Regions from separate parts of the Homo sapiens genome. Here all the other regions are linked to region 1. Evidence: fine-mapped expression QTL. A gene starts in region 1. Each other region holds a variant in brackets. All regions are shown on one strand. Distances are from middle to middle.

Region 1 (5,147 bases):
CTAAATATTTTTTGAATGGGTGAATTAAGAATTTACCTGAATGTGAATTTACCTGTATGTACCAAATTTCACATTTTAAAGTTTCTTAAAGGACAAGAATGTGGCAGAGGACAGTTTTTAGGGGCTAGTTCTATCAAGGTATGCCAGCTTGGTAACTCCCATTTTTACTTTAGGTTTGCTAATTCTTATAATAAAATAATCCTCCCTGGGTTGTGCTGGAATGATCACTGACAAATTCTTTTAAAAAAAATAACCGCAGGCTTCCTTTCTGACAGCACCTTGGGCTGTTAATTCATCATAGCTTCTATTAATTTAATTAGCTTTTTGATGGGCTCTGATAGGTACTACTGTTTCATGAGCAATTTTTGTTTTTTTGGCCTCCCACCTCTGACTGTGCTCGGTTTGAGGCTTATAACTATCTTCATTTCAACAACTACAGTATTGTTTTGCTACTTACTGATGGGCCAGTTAAATAGGTCAATGTTGATCCTCTTTTAAGTTTTTTTTTTTTAATTTCCAATGGATTAAACCACCTTTATGACCTTTAAAAACAGCAGTTATCTCCTACCAAAAGTCCCATTCAGGATTCCAGTGTTTATCACAAAACTGAATCTAGGATTTACTGTGTGTATGCAAAGATCTTTTTTTTTTTTTAAACACTAAGCTTATTCCAGATGGGCAGTGTATGGGACAGTAAAAACAGATAAGGCACCAGTAGTACGTAAACTGACAACCTGTTGGATATTAAGTATGAAAACAATTTATACAATATTTGTTAATATTAACCATATGATCTGATGTCATGGCCAAATTTGGATGGAAGCCCACCAGAGAAGCAAGCAAGAGCAAGAAGTGAGCAGAATTTCCAAGCTGGGAGAATATCTTAAGTATATATTAGGAGCCATTTAGCACACAGTGGGTCTTCTATAAATATTTGCTCGTGATTAGCCAATGTTACGATCTCCCTAGTTTATATTAAACTTTTTTCCTCTTGCATTATTCTTTTCTGAATACCTGTTCTGCCCTGAGGATATAAATTAGGTTCCCTGCTCTTAATAAGGAGCCCAGGAAAAGAGGAAAACAAGATCATTTATTACCTTCCAATATGATAAATGTAACGACGTACAAGATGCCTGGGAAGATGGGGAAAGTACGTAAGTCAGCTTTGGTGAAACACAGGAGCCCTTCCAGGGAGAGCGCTTGGTTTAGCTTTACTATACCAAGAATTTGGGTTTTATCCTTAAAGAGATAGGATGGGCTGCTACGACTGGATGTTAGGCAGAGGAATGAAAACTGTCCAGTTTACAGGCTGGAAAGGGCCAGCGGACAATAGTGGAAGGTGGATTCAGGAGAGTATGGAGACAGGGACACCAGCTAGGGAGGCTACTGGTGATGGGGAAGAAATCTTAACCCTTCATCTCATCGTAGTACAATCAAGTCATCCCTCAGCAATTACTCCTATGTTAAATGTGATGAATACAACGTGTTAAAGACAAGGCACCTGTCCTCAACGGAGCTTTAATCTCTACTATTAGCCTTTACTAACAAATTACAGTGCAGTGCCCTTAGCAGCAAAATTTTCTCGCCAAAGATTCAGTATTGTTAGCTTATTTCATAATGACCTGTAGTAAGTCATTAGTACTACTGGTCCCCTCCTCCCCCTAGTTTTGGTCAATTTTGTCCCGGCCACTTAGATTAAAATGTTGGAGGCTTGGGATAAGGACTAGGAACAGTTAAAATAGTTTCAAGCCCATGGGTGGCAGAGAAGCCAGTGACACGTGCTCCGGGCCTAGGAGCTCCGCGGAGAACGTCCTTACCCACCGCCCACCCGCGGCGCGCGCCCCGCCGACCCCCAGGTTACCTTCCTCTCCTCGGGCTCACCGGGCTCCGGCGGGGCGGCCATGAGGACTACTCCGCGACTCCACCCGCCCTGCACCGCCGGGGTCGCGGAAGCAGAAGCCCGGCTGGCCGCGCCCCTCCCCGTCCCGCCCCCACGCGCCGCCGCCTCCCGCCCTGTTCCGACGCGCCGGCCGCCATTTTAGGGAATGTTCCTAACGCTCCGCAGTGGCCGCACGGGGCCGGGCTGTCATGTCCTTTGTTCCGTCGAACGGGTCACACTTTCTTCCAAGCTCGGCACACAGCCTGCAGGGGCGGGAGAGCGGAAGGAGATGGGTTCGGAAAACAAACCGACTCCTAGATTCCTGGCGAGGTGGGGGCGTAACCGAGCCAGACAGCCCCGCTTCCCGCGCCAGCCCCCTGCTCCGCCCCAACCGCCATTTCTAACCGTCTCCGGCGCGCGTGCTCACACGCACGAGCCTCGGGCGCGCGCCGAGGGGCGGGGCCGCTGCTTTGTCCTGCGGGGTGGGCCCCACCGCGGGGGTCGGCCCGGCCCCAGCCCCCAGCCCGCCCCAGCCCACCGACCCGGAAGGCGCTCCGCGCTGGCTCGGCGGCCCTCGTCCCCTAAGTGTCCTTTGTCCTTCCGGCCACGGGACGAGCCCTTGGTGCCGGGGCAGCCCCACTCTGCACCAGCAGCCATTTAGTCCCCCGCGCCTGCCTTGCGCAAACGGGGCTCCCACGCCCACCCCACTTCCTCCCTTTTATAGTTTCATTACTAAGTGGCTTTAACATAGAACCGCGCAGTTCGCCTAAAGGAGACTGGGGACAAAATGGAGGGAGCAGCTCGCTAATGAACATGCGTCAGCACGTTGGTGTCCGCGGAGAGGGCGCGCGTGTGGCGAAGTCTTCCGGCGTCCCCGAAGGAAAAATGCCTCTGCAACGTGCATTTTTGATGTGAAGTCGTGTTCCACGTTTCACTCCTCCCTAAGACTGCGACATAACGTGAAACAAAATACTGCATATTGTCGAGCTCAATGGAGAACGCGTGCATGCAGGGTCGAGCCCATTTTTCAGCCATCAAAATAATACAATGCAATTTTTTCTAGTATTTATAATTTTTCCCCTTTAACTTTATGCCTCCTTTATGTACTTCTACATTTCACGTTTAGGTTATATGTAACCTAAGGGCACTCCTTAGGAAACTGGACTTGTAGAATATGTCATTGTGCAAAGTCATGCTGCTTCGAATTATGCTGCGCGCTGGCACACAGCAAGCGCTCAGTGTTAACGATGTCGAATTCATATTAAGTACTGTTCATTGGGCGTTTTCTTACTCCGTAAGGACCTTACTTGCATGCCCATTTGATACCTTTCTACAATCCCAGTAAAATACACAGTTAAGGTTGTGTATTTATGTGTCACATTTTTTTTTTTGAGGTTTTTTTTTGCGGGGGCGGGGGGGGTTTTTTTGTTTTTGTTTTTGAAATTGTAGTTAGAAACTACATACTGTGCCGGGCGCGGAGGCTCACGCCTGTAATCCCAACACTTTGGGGGCTGAGGCGGGCGGATCACGAGGTCAGGAGTTCGGGACCAGCCTGGTCAACTTGGTGAAACCTCGCCTCTACTAAAAATACAAAAATTAGCCTGGCGTGGTGGGGGGCGCCTGTAATCCCAGCTACTCGGCAGCCTGAGGAAGGAGAATAGCTTGAAAACGGAAGGCGGAGGTTGCAGGGAGCCGAGATCGTGCCACTGTACTCCAGCCTGGGAGAAAGAGCGAAACTCCGTCTGGGCGGGGGGAGAAACTACATACTGCTCTACTGTTTGCTAGGGAAAAGAAAAAAAGTCACCCTACTGGTGATATCCTGCCAATTCTGGATTCTCTGCTGAAATTATAATGCTAACTATGCTTTGAACTCCGGATCTGAAAGGCCGTGTTGAAGGTAGTAATATTCCATGAAGGAGGGGGAAATCCTTTTGAAGTCATTGTTGATTATGTTGTAAAAGGAAAACTGGAAAAGTACCAGCTAAAACACCACCGAGTCATCCTATTTTATTTTTATTATGACTTTGAAAATTTGCTAGAGTAGACATTGTTGGGGTCTATTTCATTTGTCTTTGAAAAGTATTTTCATAAGGATGATTTATTTTTTATTTTTTATTTTTTTTGAGACAGAGTCTCACTTTGTCGCTCAGGCTGGAGTGCAGTGGCGCAATCTCAGCTCACTGCAACCTCTGCCTCCCGGGTTCAAGTGATTCTCCTGCCTCAGCTTCCTGAGTAGCAGCTGGGATTACAGGCGCCTGCCACCACACCCGGCTAATTTTTGTATTTTTAGTAGAGAAAGGGTTTCACTATGTTGGCCAGGCTGGCCTCAAACTCCTGACCTCAGGTGATACGCCTGCCTCTGGTTTCCAGAGTGCTGGGATTACAGGCGTGAGCCACTGCGCCTGGCCTATTTTAAAATTTTTATTTTCACAAAATTGCATATAATATTTCCATTTTTAATTGTTTAACAGTTATAGAAAGGAAAGTAAAAATCTCAGTTCTTTCTCTCCTTTTTAAGGTAAATATAACTAACAGTTTGATGTCTCTCTTTTCAAACTCTTCTTTATCCTTCTTAAAAACAATTATTTGTAGAGACGGGAGGTGGGGGATGGTGTGTCACTTTGTTGCCCAGGCTGGTCTCAAACTCCTGGACTAAAGTGATCCTCCTGTCTCACCCTCCCAAAGTGCTGGGATTACAGACATGAGCTATGGCACCCGGCTTTTTCTTAATTAAATATTATTACACGAGGCCGGGCACGGTGGCTCATGCCGGTAATCCTAGCACTTTGGGAGGCCGAGGTGGGTGGATCAGCTGAGGTCAGGAGTTCAAGACCAGCCTGGCCAGCATGGCAAAACCCTGTCTCTACTAAAAATACAAAAATTAGCTGGGCATGGTGGCACACACCTGTAATCCCATCTTGGGAGGCTGAGGCAGGAGAATCGCTTGAACCCAAGAGGTGGAGGTTGTGGTGAGCCGAGATCGTGCCATTGCACTCCAGCCTGGGCAGCAAGAGCGAAACTTCGTCTCAAAAACAAAAAAAAATTATCCCACGAATACCTATATTTTGTCTTAATTAAAACAACACTGGAATATATGGGGTAAATAATGAAAGGCTCTATGTCACACTTGCCTCCACGCTTATGTATACATGTATCTGTATGTGATACACGCTGAAATGACACTGTACCACATCATTTGCATTCAGTAATTTACTTTTTGCCATATATCTGGGAACTTGTTTGATTTATGTACTACAGATTTACTCAT
Region 2 (5,147 bases), 28 kb after region 1:
AGAGATGAGATCCTGTCTCTACAAAAAAATAATTTAAAAAGAGAGAGAGAGGCCAGGCGTGGTGGCTGACGCCTGTAATCCCAGCACTTTGGGAGGCCAAGGCGGGTGGATGAGGTCAGGAGTTCGAGACCAGCCTGACCAACATGGTGAAACCCCGTCTCTACTAAAAATACAAAAATGAGGCCGGGTGCGGTGGCTCACGTCTGTAATCCCAGCACTTTGGGAGGCCGAGGCAGCCGGATCATGAGGTCAGGAGATCGAGACCATCCTGGCTAACAAGGTGAAACCCCGTCTTTACTAAAAATACAGAAAATTAGACAGGCGTGGTAGCTGGCGCCTGTAGTCCTAGCTACTCGGGAGGCTGAGGCAGGAGAATGGTGTGAACCTGGGAGGAGGAGCTTGCAGTGAGCCGAGATCGCGCCACTGCACTCCAGCTGGGGCGACAGACCGAGACTCCGTCTCAAAAAAAAAAAAAAAAAAAAAAATTAGCCGGGCGTGGTGGTGTGCACCTGTAATCCCAGCTACTCAGGAGGCTGAGGCAGGAGAATCGCTTGAACCCAGCAGGCAGAGGTTGCAGTGAGCAGAGATCATGCCATTGCACTCCAGCCTGGGCAACAAGAGCAAGGCTCTGTCTCAAAAAAAAAAAGAGAGAGAGAGAGAAATAACTTCGATGTTATTATTATATCTAATAAAATTACCAATATGTTCACATTTCCCTGTACATCTCTAAAATGTCTTTTTATAATTGCTTCATTCAAATTAGGACCCAGATAAGTGCCACAAAGTGGCTTTGGTTGCAGCCTCTTTTAAGCCTATTTTATTTTATTTTAATTTGAGATGAAGTCTCTGTTGCCCAGGTTGGAGTGCAGTGGCACGATCTCGGCTCACTGCAACCTCTGCCTCCTGGGTTCAAGTGATTCTCCTTCCTCAGCCTCCTGAGTAGCTGGGATTATAGGCATGTGCTACCATACCCGGCTGATTTTTGTATTTTTAGTAGAGATGGGGTTTTACCATGTTGGCCAGGCTGGTCTCCAACTCCTGACCTCAGGTGATCCACCCACCTCAGCCTCCCAAAGTGCTGGGATTACAGGTGCGAGCCACTGCACCCAGCCTTTTAAGCCTATTTTAATCACTCCTCTTACCTGCCATTCCCCAATGTCATTTATTTATTTATTTATTTTTGAGACAGAGTCTTGCTCTGTTGTCCAGGCTGGAGAGCAGTGGCACAATCTCGGCTCACTGCAACCTCCATCTCCCGGGTTCAAGTGATTCTCCTGCCTCAGCCTCCTGAGTAGCTGGAATTACAGGTGCCCATCACGCCTGGCTAATTTTTGTATTTTTAGTAGAGATGGGGTTTCACCATGTTGGCTAGACTGGTCTCGAACTCCTGACCTCAGGTGATTCGCCCACCTCGCCTCCCAAAGTGCTGAGATTACAGGCGTGAGCCACCATGCCTTGCCCCATGTCATTTATTTTTGAAGAAACCAGGTCATGCCTGTAGAATTTCCCTACGTCGGATTCAGCTGACTGATTTCTGTTGTGTCATTGTGTTTTTCCTCTATTGTCCATATTTCCCATAAACTGGTAGGCAGCGCTAGAAGCTTGATTCCATTCAGATCTAATTTTGTTGGTGAGCACATGTCATAGAGGTGCCATCTACTTCCTGTTCCTCACTCTCAAAAACTGGTCAGTGGGTTGAGGTGGTGTCAGTCTGATCCCCCATTACAGTTTCTCTATAACCTTTTGCCTGATGTTTTAGTAGCTGTTGATGATTGTTGCCTAAATACATTATTTCATTAGTTGCTACCATTACTTCTGGATTTACTAACTGGATTTTCATTTAAAAAGAACTTTCCTGGCTGGGCATGGTGGCTCATGCCTGTAACCCCAGCACTTTGGGAGGCTGAGGCGGGTAGATCACCTGAGGTCAGGAGTTCAAGATCAGCCTGACCAACATGGAGAAATCTCGTCTGTACTAAAAATACAAAATTAGCTGGGCATGGCGGTGCATGCCTGTAATCCCAGCTACTCGGGAAGCTGAGGCAGGAGAATCGCGTGAACCCGGGAGGCAGAGGTTCCAGTGAGCCAAGATCGCGCCATTGCACTCCAGCCTGGGCAACAAAGTGAGACTCCGTCTCAAAAAAAATAAGTAAATAAAAATAAAGAC[C/T]TTTCCTTCATTAACTCTTTGGTTACTTTGAAACACAGACTCCTGGGCATGTGGCTCATGCCTGTAATCCCAGTGTTTTGGAGGCTGAGGTGGGAGAATCACTTGAAGCCAGGAGCTTGAGACCAGCCTGGGCAACATAATAAGACCCCATCTCTCTAAAAAGAGGAAAGAAAGAAAAAGAGAGAAAGAAGGAAGGAAGGGAGGAAGGAAGGAAGGGGAGCAAGCAAGGGAGAGAAAGAAAAAGAAGAAAGAAAGAAAAAGAAAGAAGAAAGAAAGAAAAGAACTTAGAAAGAAAAGAAAAGAAAACAAAGAAAGATGCAGAGTATATAGGAAGACACAGGATAAATGCTTGACTCACTCCTTTCATTTGCCAATTTTCAGCATAATGTGTTGGTCCCTCAGCAACCTCCAAAGACAACAATGAGGGATTTTTCATGGGGGTGGAGAGGACTTGATATAATGATATATCATTACATTGTATATAAATTTAATATAAATTTTTATGTATATTTTATATAAATTTTATAATTTTGTTGTTTTCCATCCATTATAGTGATTATTCTTTTTGATGCTGAAATTATTCCATTTTTTACTTCATCCAATTAGTTCCTGTATCTTTGATAAGACTCAAGAGGTCTTTAATAGTTTCCTTCCTTCTTTGATAAGATTCAAGAGGTCTTTAATAGTTTCCTTCCTTCCTTTTTTTTTCTATTTATTTAAATTTTAAAAACTTGTTGTTTCCCCCCAGTGGCTCCTTATGGACCCAAGCTCTCTTACTTTCTGACACAAAGGCTATCCCTGGAACATCTTGTACATTTTCTTTTCTTTTTTCCTTTTTTTTTTTTTTTTGAGATGGAGTCTCACCCGGTCACCCAGGCTGGAGTGTGATCTCGGCTCACTGCAACCTCCGCCTCCCGCATTCAAGTGATTCTCCTGCCTCAGTCTCCCAAGTAGCTGGGATTACAGGCCTGCACCACCATGCCTCGCCAATTTTTTGTATCTTTAGTAGAGACGGGGTTTCACCATGTTGGCCAGGTTGGTCTCAAACTCCTGACTTCGTGATCTGCCCACCTCAGCCTCCTGCAGTGCTGGGATTACAGGCGTGAGCCACCACACCCGGCCTCTCCTAGTGGATATAGTATTTGGAACCCAAGAACCAGGCCCCAGGAGAGCTCACTGCTACTGAGAGCCATTTCGTCTAGGCTCTTTCAGTGGGCAGAGGTAGAAAAAAGTTTCAAAAATCATGAATTCATATTTATATTCAAATTAGGATATTTACAATCTAGGCACTAAGAATAGTCATTGCTAGTAGGTGTCATTGCTTTTTTTTTTTTCTCGAGATGGAGTCTCACTCTGTCACCCAGGCTGGAGTGCTGTGGCGCAATCTCAGCTCACTGCAAACTCCTGGCCTCCCGGGTTCAAGAGATTCTCTTGCCTCTGCCTCCCGAGTAGCTGGGATTACAGCTGCCCTCCACCACTCCCGGCTAATTTTCGTATTTTTTGGTAGAGATGGAGTTTCACCATGTTGGCCAGGCTGGTCTTGAACTCCTGACCTCAAGTGATCTGCTCGCCTTAACCTCCCAAAGTGCTGAGATTACAGGTGTGAGCCACCGCGCCCGGCCAGGTGTCATCGCTTCTTGTTCTTTTTCGGTAGAGTTACCGTCATTAAATGAAACACACATTAATGGGTTGCAGGGGTCTCACTTTCATGTTCTTTTCCATTCTGCTGTGTTATTTGTCCATAATAACCCTACAACACATATAATATTTAAGTCTAGAACTTAATGGGACAACTTGGGTGAATCTCAGAAATAGAAGGTTGAATGAAAAGAAAGGAGACAGAAAAATGTGTACACTGTAGGTTACCATTTATCCAAAGTTAAAAAACAGGCCGGGCGAGGTGGCTTACGCCTGTAATCCCAGCACTTTGGGAGGTTGTGGCAGGCGGATCCCTTGAGGTTAGGAGTTGGAGACCAGCCTGGCTAACATGGTGAAACCCCAACTCTACTAAAAACACAAAAATTAGCCGGGCATGGTGGCGGGCGCCTGTCATCCCAGCTACTTGGGAGGCTGAGGCAGGAGAATCGCTTGATCCTGGGAGGCCAGGAGGTTGCAGTGAGCCGAGATTGCGCCATTGCACTCCAGCCTGGGCGACAGAGTGAGACTTCATCTTAAGAAAAAAAAAAAAAGCAATGACACCTACTAGCAATGCCTATCCTTAGTGCCTAGATTGTAAATGTCCTAATTTGAATATTAATATGAATTCATGATTTTTGAAACTTTTTTTCTACCTCTGCCCAGGAGGCAGGAGAATCGCTTGAATCTGGGAGGCAGAGGTTGCAGTGAGCCAAGATTACACCATTGCACTCCAGCCTGGGTGACAGAATGAGACTCTGTCTCAGGAAAACAAAACAAAACAAAACAAAGAAAACCTGAAAAAACAAAAACAAAAACAAGTCCGAAATTCAAAAACAAAAATCTATGCCCCAGAAGTTGGAAGGCGGGGTCAGTGAACGGGAGGGCCACAGTGCTGGGCGCCGGGAATGTTCTTTCTGTGGGTGTTGATCGCAGATGCGTGCTCACTTTGTAAAAGGTCATCTAGCTGTACACTTATGATTTGGGCACTGTTCCCTGTGTATACTTTATTAAAGATGTACTCTAGGAAGATTGAACCTGTGTTAAATCCCAGTCCCTAATCTAAGCGTAGTCTCTTCATAATTTTGTTTTGTTTTGTTTGGAGATGGAGTCTCGCCCTGTTGCCCAGGCTGGAGTGCAGCGGCACGATCTTGTCTCACTGCAACCTCCACCTCCTGGGTTCAAGCAGTTCTCCTGCCTCAGCCTCCCGAGTCACTGGGATTACAGGCGAGCACCAACTATGCCCGGCTAATTTTTGTATTTTTGGTAGAGATGGGGTTTCGCTGTGTTGGCCAGGTTGGTCTTGAACTCCTGACCTCAAGTGATCTGCCCACCTTGGCCTCCC
Region 3 (5,147 bases), 30 kb before region 1:
ATGGGGTTTCAACATGTTGGCCAGGCTGGTCTCGAACTCCTGACCTCAGGTGATCTGCCCACCTCAGCCTCCCAAAGTGCTGGGATTACAGGTGTGAGCCACCACTCCCGATCTTGTTTTTTGTTTTGTTTTGTTTTTTTTGGGGGGCGGGGGGGAATGAGAATATTTAACGTAAGATCTTAACGGGTTTTTTTCTTTTTCTTTCTTTTTTCTTTTTTTTTTTTTTTGAGACAGGGTCTCCCTCTGTGGTCCAGGTTAGAGTGCAGTGGTACAATCACGGCTCACTGCAGCCTTGACTGCCGGGGGTCAAGTGATCCTGCTACCTCAGCCCCTTGAGTAGCTCGGACTACAGGCGTACCACCACAGCCACCTAATTTTAATTTTTTGTGGAGATGGAGTCTCACTGTGTTCCTCAGGCTGGTTTCGAACTCCTGGCCTCAAGCCATCTTCCCATCTCGGCCTCTCGAAGTGCTGGGATTACAGACATGAGCCGCTGGGCCTGGCCAGCAAATTTTTAAGTGCAGGATACTTTGTTAACTGTAGATCTCTGGAACTGCCTCATCGTTATGACTATAAAATGTTTTTGAGAAAGTATTGAAAAAATATTTGCTGAATAAATTGTGTGACAAAGTATAGCATTTCCTTTGCTTAAACCTCAAAAATGTAAGCTAGACATGCAGAGCACCAAAACTTTGTAGTTACCTCTCACAGATCAATTATTCATAGGTCATTCTTGAATCATTTTTTGTTATTGAGAATTAACTTGTCTCCTCCGGCACGCGGTATTCTTGGTAGCCTCTAGGATTTGACACAGGGGGAATTTAAATTGTCTTAGAGGTCCTTCAGAGATTTACAGGAAGTGACCTGCACTTTAACAGGTCTCTGTAGAGCAGGACTATCATGATAGCATTAAAAATATAAGAAGCAAAAATGATCAATAAGATGTCACCATTTGTACTTTGAAGTGGTAACATAAGACTATGGAATGGCATATTTCCTCTGTTTGTGAAAAGGATAGTATGATGATGGTTCTTTGAGCAGAAATTGTTTTTCTTTCAAATGTTGTCTAAGACAGCACAATGTAATAGAAAGCCCATTGGTGTGGGGGGTGAGGGTCCCAGCTTCCTGGGCAGTAAAATGAACAGGACTGCAGATCGATCTCCAGGCCCCATCCAGCTCTAAAGTTCTCCAAAACTTTTGGAGATAAAGCCATAGAACTTTCTTGTGAGCATCAAAAGTTGTATTTCATGTTTATTTTTGCAACTGACTTAATGTTCCAAGAGTGACTGTTACAGATCTACTATATGTAGATATACAATCTTTGTTTTCATAGTTTAGTGTTTTCCAGTAAATGAAATTTGTTTTCATATAACTAATATTTAAAGGTGTAAATAATATCTAGGACACATAAATTTAAGGAACCATCATAATTGTATTTAACTCTGATTCATTAAGGGATTAGTTATCTAGTTTGTGAACATGTAAACCCCCTGTAGCTCTCTTCCCATTTCTGAACGAAGACAAAATTTCAAATTCCAGTTTGTGGCTTATTCATAACCTTCAAAATTATAACCAAAGGCTAAAATGAGTTTCTGGCACTGTTTGGAAGTTTCTATTTTGGGGGCTATCCTCACCACTTAACTTGAACTGGGGATTATCAGTAGTACTGTACATAGTCCATTAATTTCAAGTCAAATCATTTCACAAGTGTTAATATTTCACGTATACATGACTGCAAGGTATGGTAGAATGCTTCATAAAAGCTACCGAAAATAAACTTCAAAAATAAAATGTATCAATTAGTTAAATCATATTAGCCTATGGGAGAAATTTCAATGTGTTTACTTCCAAATTTCAAATTAATAATGGGGCAATATTATTGTGCCACCTAGAGCACCAAACAGTGGGTATAAACCATCTCCTTAGTCAGATGGAACACTGGCTGGACACTGCAGATTATCTAGGGTTTAAAATGTTAACTTCTATCACGAATCTAAATTCTGACTTCCCTATCTAAAACTTCGAGACATCACATCTTTTCTTTAAAGAGAAAAAGTAAACTTCTAACATATAAAATAACGGATTTCAAGAGCGATAGTCCATTTTTCTTTTTACAAAATCACAGCCCTTGATTTTTCGTAAACTTTAAGTTTCAGAATAATTTGGTCAAGAGTATTTCTACAGGAATAGGAAGAGAATCAAGTGGGCCTATAATCAAAGACCTAGTTGGGTCTCACCCTCACGGTTAGCTACTGGGACTTCGTAGCTGATGACCAGGTCCTAAAGTGGACAGAACAAGTGTTACTGGAGGTCCGTCTTTGTGGTAGCTACAGAAAACTTGGAAATGCAATTCTGAGGTTTATTCAGGGTTATTAAGAGCATGAGAATAGCTGCCCTGCAAAGGCAGGTACACTAAGGTTTGCAGTATGGAGTAGTAAGCAAAGCCTCTACTTCCCAGGCCCCGCACCCGGGGTGTGGAACAGACAAAAGAACGGTTCTGCCCTTGCCCTTCTCGAACTTAAAATCCAATTCGCAAGGCAGGACTTACACAAATTAAACCAAATACGGTATTATGAGGAAAAGAGCCGCTGCGTGTAACAGTTGCCAATGTATGCTATACCAGTCAAAACTGAAATACGATTTGAAGGAGTTTTAAACGAAGAGCTGGAGAAACACATAAGAAGGCAGATCTAAGATGGAAGAAAAGGCGGATTCGGGTTGAAACGCCAAGTTGAGGACTGAAGAAAGCATTTGGATAAAGCAGCCTCCAAGCTGGGAAGGAGAAAAGCCAAACGAGTATAGCCACCAAAGACCCAGAAAGGCCAATATATCATGCAGTGAGTCGGTTGAACTGAAAGGCGGTTTCCTTTTCCTCCATTTGCTCAGTCCCAATTGGAAGCGC[A/C]CTGCGCGGCCTCCACCGCGCTCTCGGCCCGGGTTCGGCGTGGGGGCGGGGAGGTAAGTACGGTAATGGGCGGGGCCGAGCGCGGGCGCGCTCCGGCTTTCCTCCTGCGCAGTGCTCCCGTCAGCGCAGGGGGCGGGGCGCCTATATTACGTGCGCGGCGCCGCTCCTGCGAGAGGACGTTGCGTGCTCGCTCGCGCCAGGCGAGTCTCCGCGTCTCCCTCGCGAACTCGGTGAAAGGAATTGGCGCCGTTCGACACCAGGCGGATCCGCTCTGCAGCACGAACCCATCTCCAGCCGCAGCCGCAGCCGCCGCCCGGGCCGAGGAGCAGCCGCAGCAGCCGCCACCAGTGGCCGAGTGAGCGGAGCCGAGTTTGAGGCAGCGCCTAGCGGTGAATCGGGGCCCTCACCATGAGTTCCTCGCCTGTTAATGTAAAAAAGCTGAAGGTGTCGGAGCTGAAAGAGGAGCTCAAGAAGCGACGCCTTTCTGACAAGGGTCTCAAGGCCGAGCTCATGGAGCGACTCCAGGCTGCGCTGGACGACGAGGAGGCCGGGGGCCGCCCCGCCATGGAGCCCGGGAACGGCAGCCTAGACCTGGGCGGGGATTCCGCTGGGCGCTCGGGAGCAGGCCTCGAGCAGGAGGCCGCGGCCGGCGGCGATGAAGAGGAGGAGGAAGAGGAAGAGGAGGAGGAAGGAATCTCCGCTCTGGACGGCGACCAGATGGAGCTAGGAGAGGAGAACGGGGCCGCGGGGGCGGCCGACTCGGGCCCGATGGAGGAGGAGGAGGCCGCCTCGGAAGACGAGAACGGCGACGATCAGGGTTTCCAGGAAGGGGAAGATGAGCTCGGGGACGAAGAGGAAGGCGCGGGCGACGAGAACGGGCACGGGGAGCAGCAGCCTCAACCGCCGGCGACGCAGCAGCAACAGCCCCAACAGCAGCGCGGGGCCGCCAAGGAGGCCGCGGGGAAGAGCAGCGGCCCCACCTCGCTGTTCGCGGTGACGGTGGCGCCGCCCGGGGCGAGGCAGGGCCAGCAGCAGGCGGGAGGTAAGAAGAAGGCGGAAGGCGGCGGAGGCGGCGGTCGCCCCGGGGCTCCGGCGGCGGGTGAGTGCTGCGTTGTACGTTGCGCGCGGCGGGAGGCCCGCGCGGGGTGGGGACCGTGCCCCAGGCCTGCCGGAGCCCCGCAGGGGGAGGGAGCCCCGGGCGGGAGGGCGCCGCGGTGAGGGTGGGGGAGGGGGCGCGGGGAATCCCAGATTAGCCGAGAGGCCTCGGGCTCGGGGCGTGTGTGTGCGCGCGCGCGTGTGTGTGTGTGTGTGTGTGTGTGTCGGCGGTGGCAGCGCCTCCATTATGTGGCTCGAGAGCCGGGGGGAGCTGCAGCTGCCGCTGTAGGGGGAGGAGCCGCGGGCGGGCGGCGGGAGGGAGCCCGGTCGGCCCGCGGTGGCGCCGTCGCGCTGCGTGCGCGCGGTGCGGGCACATGTCTCGGGGGGAGGGGAGAGGCCCCAGGTCCCGGGGCGGGCGCGCTTTGGCGGCTCCTCGCCGCTGTATTGTGCAAGGAGCGCAGGGGCTCGGCGTGACGTCACTTCCGGCGGGAGGAGCCGGGCGGGGCGGGGCGGGGGGCGGAAGATCAGTACAATGCGGCCGCGGGGAGCGCGGGCCCGCGGGGGAGGGGAGCGCCGCCGCGCCGGGCTCGGCCCCTCCCCCTCTCTGCGCTCTCTTCGGGATACACGTGGGCTTCGGGCCTGGGCCGCGCAGTTTTTCTTTGGCTTTCTCGAATCATCGAGGAGACTGGCAAAATTAGTAATGTCTTTAGACTGCGTCACTAGCGCCAATCGAATTCGTAGTTGATTGTTCTTTGAATTCACATTTGAGTCCTCGGTTAAAACCTCAGTTAAAAAGCAGGATAAAGTCGAGCTGCTTTGGTTCTCGGAACGGAAAAGCGTTTTTTTGTTGTTTAGAGGCTTGGCCTTTATGGGGCTCGTGTGTGTTTTAGGGGACGGCAAAACAGAACAGAAAGGCGGAGATAAAAAGAGGGGTGTTAAAAGACCACGAGAAGATCATGGCCGTGGATATTTTGAGTACATTGAAGAGAACAAGTATAGCAGGTATAGGATGCTCACCTAGTTTTACTCATCCCTTATTCGTTCGTTGATCGGAAAGCTGTATCAGGAGACAATTCTGTCTTTCAGAGCCAAATCTCCTCAGCCACCTGTTGAAGAAGAAGATGAACACTTCGATGACACAGTGGTTTGT
Region 4 (5,147 bases), 22 kb before region 1:
GGCTGGTCGCCAACTCTTGACCTCAGGTGATCCACTGTCTCGGCGTCCCAAAGTGCTGGGATTACAGGCATGAGCCACTGTGCCCAGCCTTTTTTTTTCCTTTTTAAAATAGTGACAAGGTCTCACCATGTTGCCCAGGCTGGTCTTGAACTCCTAAGCTCAAGTGATCTGCCCGCCTGAGCCTCTCAGAATGCTGGAATTACAGGTGCTTCATACTGCTAAGTTATCAAAGGTACTTATTTTTGAAGCTTCCTGTAAATTAAAAGAGGAGCTTGGAACCTTCATTTTGTTGTGACAGTTAATCACGGTTGTTATGTTAGAACTTGCCATGCAGAGCTAGGCGATTTTTTATTTAGGGTACTTCATTTTTATCAAGCATTTGAAAGGGCCACCAAAGAGTTAAAAATAAAATTTGGTTACATTACTGCTTTTGTTGGTGAGAAAAACATTAATTGTATCCTTTAATTGGCTTTAAGTTAAAGACTGACAACATGAACTTTAAAAATATTAAGTATTCTTTTAAATATGGGTCAAATAAGTATTTAACTCTTTAAATTTCAAGTTATAAGCACATCAGTTTAAAGTTCTTACAAATATTGGGGGTGGGCTAGAGTGTGCCTTCTTTGTATTTATAGCTAGAGGAAGATTAGCCCGTGGCGCAATGAAATATGCGAGAGTTAAGGGGTTACCTCCTTGGTGTATTATTTTAATTATTTAATGATTTGACTTTCAGGTTACAGAGAAGATCCCAGTAAGGCATTTATATACAAAAGATATTGACATACATGAAGTTCGTATTGGCTGGTCACTAACTACAAGTGGAATGTTACTTGGTAAAGCTTCTTTTTGACTGATGTGGGCTCATGAATGTTCAGGAGGGTCTGATTTCAGTGTTTTTTAACTAGAGGGCATTCTAAGCCTTTTGTCTGTTTTTATCTATTCTGTTAATACTTCAGACAGGTAATATTAGCACATAGTAGGCACAGGCTACATTTTAGTTTTTGTTCCTTTATTAGAAGTTTATGACCAATGGTTGAAATAAAATCTTACCCGTGATATGCAAATCGTCAACTAATTTGGTCTCTGCGTATATATCCCTCCTAACTTCCATCAATTCTGGTACAGAGATAGAAAAGTAATAGTGTCAGTGACAGGTGATTAGGTTATATGCTTATTTCTCTTGTAGCCTACATCTTAAGTAGTAAAATAGATGAGTCTTTGGACTATTTTAAACATCTACTTCATGAAGATTAATTATTTTCTTAGGTGAAGAAGAATTTTCTTATGGGTATTCTCTAAAAGGAATAAAAACATGCAACTGTGAGACTGAAGATTATGGAGAAAAGTTTGATGAAAATGATGTGATTACATGTTTTGCTGTAAGTTAAAGCTAACTTTCTATGTATAAATGGCAAAGTTAGTAGCTATATCTAGGAACTTTAAAGAAGCTTTACTGAGGTCAGTTTTCAATATGAGCAACAAAATACACCAGTCCCTGGATTAGTGTAAAGACTTCATTCAGCAGTTGAATTGGGAAAACACAGGACATTTTTGAGGAACTCACTAATTCATTTTGACTGAAAACAGTGAACATGAAATTGACCTAGAAAATTCAGTCTAGCTTCTAGGTCAGTATTGTTTCTGGTTCTGGAGATACGTGCTTCATGGTTTACAACCATCAGATTTCTTAACTGTGTAGCCCTTAAAGGCCACCTAATAGTTCTTTAACCTGTAGCTTCCACAGGATAAGCTTTGCTCCTAATTTTAATTCTTAGTTTTTTAGAAAGTTTAAGGAAGCAGATTTTAACTGTTGAATTTTTTTCTGTGTAACAGAACTTTGAAAGTGATGAAGTAGAACTCTCGTATGCTAAGAATGGACAAGATCTTGGCGTTGCCTTCAAAATCAGTAAGGAAGTTCTTGCTGGACGGCCACTGTTCCCGCATGTTCTCTGCCACAACTGTGCAGTTGAATTTAATTTTGGTCAGAAGGAAAAGCCATATTTTCCAATACCTGAAGAGTATACTTTCATCCAGAACGTCCCCTTAGAGGATCGAGTTAGAGGACCAAAGGGGCCTGAAGAGAAGAAAGATTGTGAAGTAAGGGATTTTTTTTTTTTTAACTGTGGCATTTGAATATTGCTTGCCTGGCACAAAATGACATTTAGAAGAACTAGATGATTAGTCTGTTTCATTTACTTTGTGCTGTGCATATTGCTCTTAAGTAATTGTTTCCCCCTTATGTTGACTGTTAATCTTTCCATAAACAAATTTTTGTCCGTTAGTGTAAGGGCTATGAAAACTTAGATATTTAAATTGGCCTTAACAATATTTAAAGAATTATTAGGTGGTGTCTACTGACAGTGAAATGACATTTCTTTTCTTTTCACTAGGTTGTGATGATGATTGGCTTGCCAGGAGCTGGAAAAACTACCTGGGTTACTAAACATGCAGCAGAAAATCCAGGGAAATATAACATTCTTGGCACAAATACTATTATGGATAAGATGATGGTAAGTAAAATGTTTAGGGCCTGATCTCAGTGTTTAAAATAGACTGGGAGAGGCTGGGCATGGTGGTTCACGCCTGTAATCTCAGCATTTTGAGAGGCTGAGGTGGATGGATCACCTGAGGTCAGGAGTTTGAGACCCACCTGGCCAACATGGCGAAGCCCCGTTCCTACTAAAAATTTAAAAATTAGCTGGGTGTGGTAGTGGGTTCCTGTAATCCCAGCTGCTCGGGAGGTTGAGGCAGGGACAATTACTTGAACCTGGGAGGCAGAGGTTGCAGTGAGTTGAGATCGTGCCATTGTACTCCAGTCTGGGCGACAGAGCAACACTCCGTCTCAGAAAAAAAAAAAAAAGAAAAGAAAAATTATAGACCGGGAGGTATTCTAGGTAAACTTTTTGTCTTTGTCTCTATCCATTTTGTTAGTATCTTAAAGAGATGGGAGGAAAGGCAAGATTAAGTTGGTTCTTTCAACTCTGAGGGTAAACTGCCTTCCACTGGCTAGGCTTCTGTTTTTTTCCGTAGTGTTTTTGAGCT[C/T]TTAACATCTAGCAGCTAAAAAGAATTGAGTAAGTGTAAGGTCTTGTTACATAGTTTAAGTGACCCTGTTTTTGTAGCAATAATGGACAAAGGTAATATTTAAATTATAAAATGTTGCCTGCTTTACATATAGATATGAGTTGAATTTTAAAAAGCATAACTTATTAAAATTCACAAGTTCAAGGGGAAATTTTAACTTTTGAATATAGGTGGCAGGTTTTAAGAAGCAAATGGCAGATACTGGAAAACTGAACACACTGTTGCAGAGAGCCCCCCAGTGTCTTGGGAAATTTATTGAGATTGCTGCCCGAAAGAAGCGAAATTTTATTCTGGATCAGGTACGCTGTAGCTTTGAAATTGAAAAATATTAACTGATAATTTAGATAGATTGGTGTAGAATTAATGTTTAGGGTTGTAAACATAAATTTCTTTTTTTAAAGACAAATGTGTCTGCTGCTGCCCAGAGGAGAAAAATGTGCCTGTTTGCAGGCTTCCAGCGAAAAGCTGTTGTAGTTTGCCCAAAAGATGAAGACTATAAGCAAAGAACACAGAAGAAAGCAGAAGTAGAGGGGAAAGACCTACCAGAACATGCGGTCCTCAAAATGAAAGGCATGGAATTTTAATTCTGTTACTGTGTGAAATCTTCTTTTTAAAAGAATGTTTTTCCTACATATTCTGCTTGTGTAACTATGTTAAATCTATTAGGACTTAGGCCTCCTGAAAGTTAACATTTTTTCCAGCAATACTGCTTCAGGAATTAAAATTGCAGTTGTTACATATGCATATATGTTTGGTCTGTTTTTATTTTTAGGAAAATATGTTACTAAACCTCAAGAATTGTCAGCTTTAGGATTGTGAGGATTCGTGGTGGGTTTCTAAATTAATAATATGACTTTGTTTCCTGCAGGAAACTTTACCCTCCCAGAGGTAGCTGAGTGCTTTGATGAAATAACCTATGTTGAACTTCAGAAGGAAGAAGCCCAAAAACTCTTGGAGCAATATAAGGAAGAAAGCAAAAAGGCTCTTCCACCAGAAAAGAAACAGAACACTGGCTCAAAGAAAAGCAATAAAAATAAGAGTGGCAAGAACCAGTTTAACAGAGGTGGTGGCCATAGAGGACGTGGAGGATTCAATATGCGTGGTGGAAATTTCAGAGGAGGAGGCAAGTTAATTTTGAGTGTTCTGTATTTAGTTCAGGATCGAAACAAGTGATAATTTTATAGTTTGGATGTAGCTGAAGTTTCTTCCTCATTAATGGTATACTGTCACAGTAACTAAAGTATTCATGTGATTTGATATTAAATACACCTAGGTTATGTTAATGGTTAGAATTAAACATTTCTTTTGTCTTTAAACAATTATTTTTGGAGAAAAAGGAACAATCTAGAGGAATCCTAAGTCTTCTGTATAAGTAGGGTACAATATACAATGAAACTAAAACAGCTCTTGTCTTTTAGCCCCTGGGAATCGTGGCGGATATAATAGGAGGGGCAACATGCCACAGAGAGGTGGTGGCGGTGGAGGAAGTGGTGGAATCGGCTATCCATACCCTCGTGCCCCTGTTTTTCCTGGCCGTGGTAGTTACTCAAACAGAGGGAACTACAACAGAGGTGGAATGCCCAACAGAGGGAACTACAACCAGGTAATGATTCAAGATCCCTGGAAGCATGATTGATAACTGTAGCTTAGTCTGGAAAGGTGTGAGCTTTATGTTGGGGTGTCTTAGTAATCCGTAAGGAACATGATAGGCATTGACATAAGGAAAATTGAACTAGTAATGGTGAAATGAGTCTACTTACTTTTGAGTTTTTTCAGGTGTACTAAACAAGTCAGATGCATTTCTCATAATGAATAAAAAATTAAAACATAAGAAACCAGCAGAGGGTATCCAGAATTTGTGTATTGCTTGCTACCTAAGATTAGGGGCTAGCAACCTGTCCATTTCTGCTCCTCTCTCTCACCCCCACAAACCTAACAAGCAATTGGGCTCAGAGCTCTTAGAGAGTATTTCCTTTTTGTAGAACTTCAGAGGACGAGGAAACAATCGTGGCTACAAAAATCAATCTCAGGGCTACAACCAGTGGCAGCAGGGTGTAAGTAATTTC

The links. PIP is the estimated chance that this variant, and not a neighbour inherited with it, causes the effect.
Region 2: its variant is fine-mapped to the expression of COX20 in B cells (Fairfax 2012, PIP 0.95).
Region 3: its variant is fine-mapped to the expression of COX20 in monocytes (TOPMed, PIP above 0.99). The same link has a PIP of 0.9 or more in T cells.
Region 4: its variant is fine-mapped to the expression of COX20 in whole blood (INTERVAL, PIP 0.93).

The regions. Positions count from the first base shown.
Region 1 is chr1:244,832,471-244,837,617 of GRCh38, reverse strand. It overlaps COX20 (cytochrome c oxidase assembly factor COX20), which reads right to left and starts at 1,960. Exons shown (of 4, transcript NM_198076.6): 1 at 1,862-1,960. The coding sequence starts at 1,903. RefSeq lists silencers at 1,607-1,896, 1,937-1,986, 2,227-2,566 and enhancers at 2,067-2,186, 2,727-2,786, 3,290-4,049.
Region 2 is chr1:244,804,585-244,809,731 of GRCh38, reverse strand. No RefSeq gene overlaps it. Among named protein-coding and RNA genes, the nearest start is that of COX20, 28 kb to the left of the region's middle. RefSeq lists an enhancer at 112-612. The variant C/T (reference allele first, on the strand shown) is at 2,168.
Region 3 is chr1:244,862,471-244,867,617 of GRCh38, reverse strand. HNRNPU (heterogeneous nuclear ribonucleoprotein U) reads left to right here and starts at 3,075. Exons shown (of 14, transcript NM_031844.3): 1 at 3,075-4,001; 2 at 4,888-4,999; 3 at 5,084-5,147. The coding sequence starts at 3,311. LOC124904588 (UPF0764 protein C16orf89-like) reads left to right here. Exons shown (of 4, transcript XM_047439568.1): 3 at 2,887-2,955; 4 at 3,032-3,136. The coding sequence ends at 3,136. RefSeq lists enhancers at 2,646-2,705, 2,039-2,869, 2,870-3,701 and silencers at 2,926-3,025, 4,006-4,685. The variant A/C (reference allele first, on the strand shown) is at 2,903.
Region 4 is chr1:244,854,961-244,860,107 of GRCh38, reverse strand. HNRNPU (heterogeneous nuclear ribonucleoprotein U) reads left to right here. Exons shown (of 14, transcript NM_031844.3): 5 at 734-833; 6 at 1,267-1,379; 7 at 1,834-2,097; 8 at 2,391-2,510; 9 at 3,252-3,380; 10 at 3,483-3,651; 11 at 3,950-4,204; 12 at 4,500-4,684; 13 at 5,064-5,135. Among named protein-coding and RNA genes, the nearest start is that of SNORA100, 3.3 kb to the right of the region's middle. The variant C/T (reference allele first, on the strand shown) is at 3,043.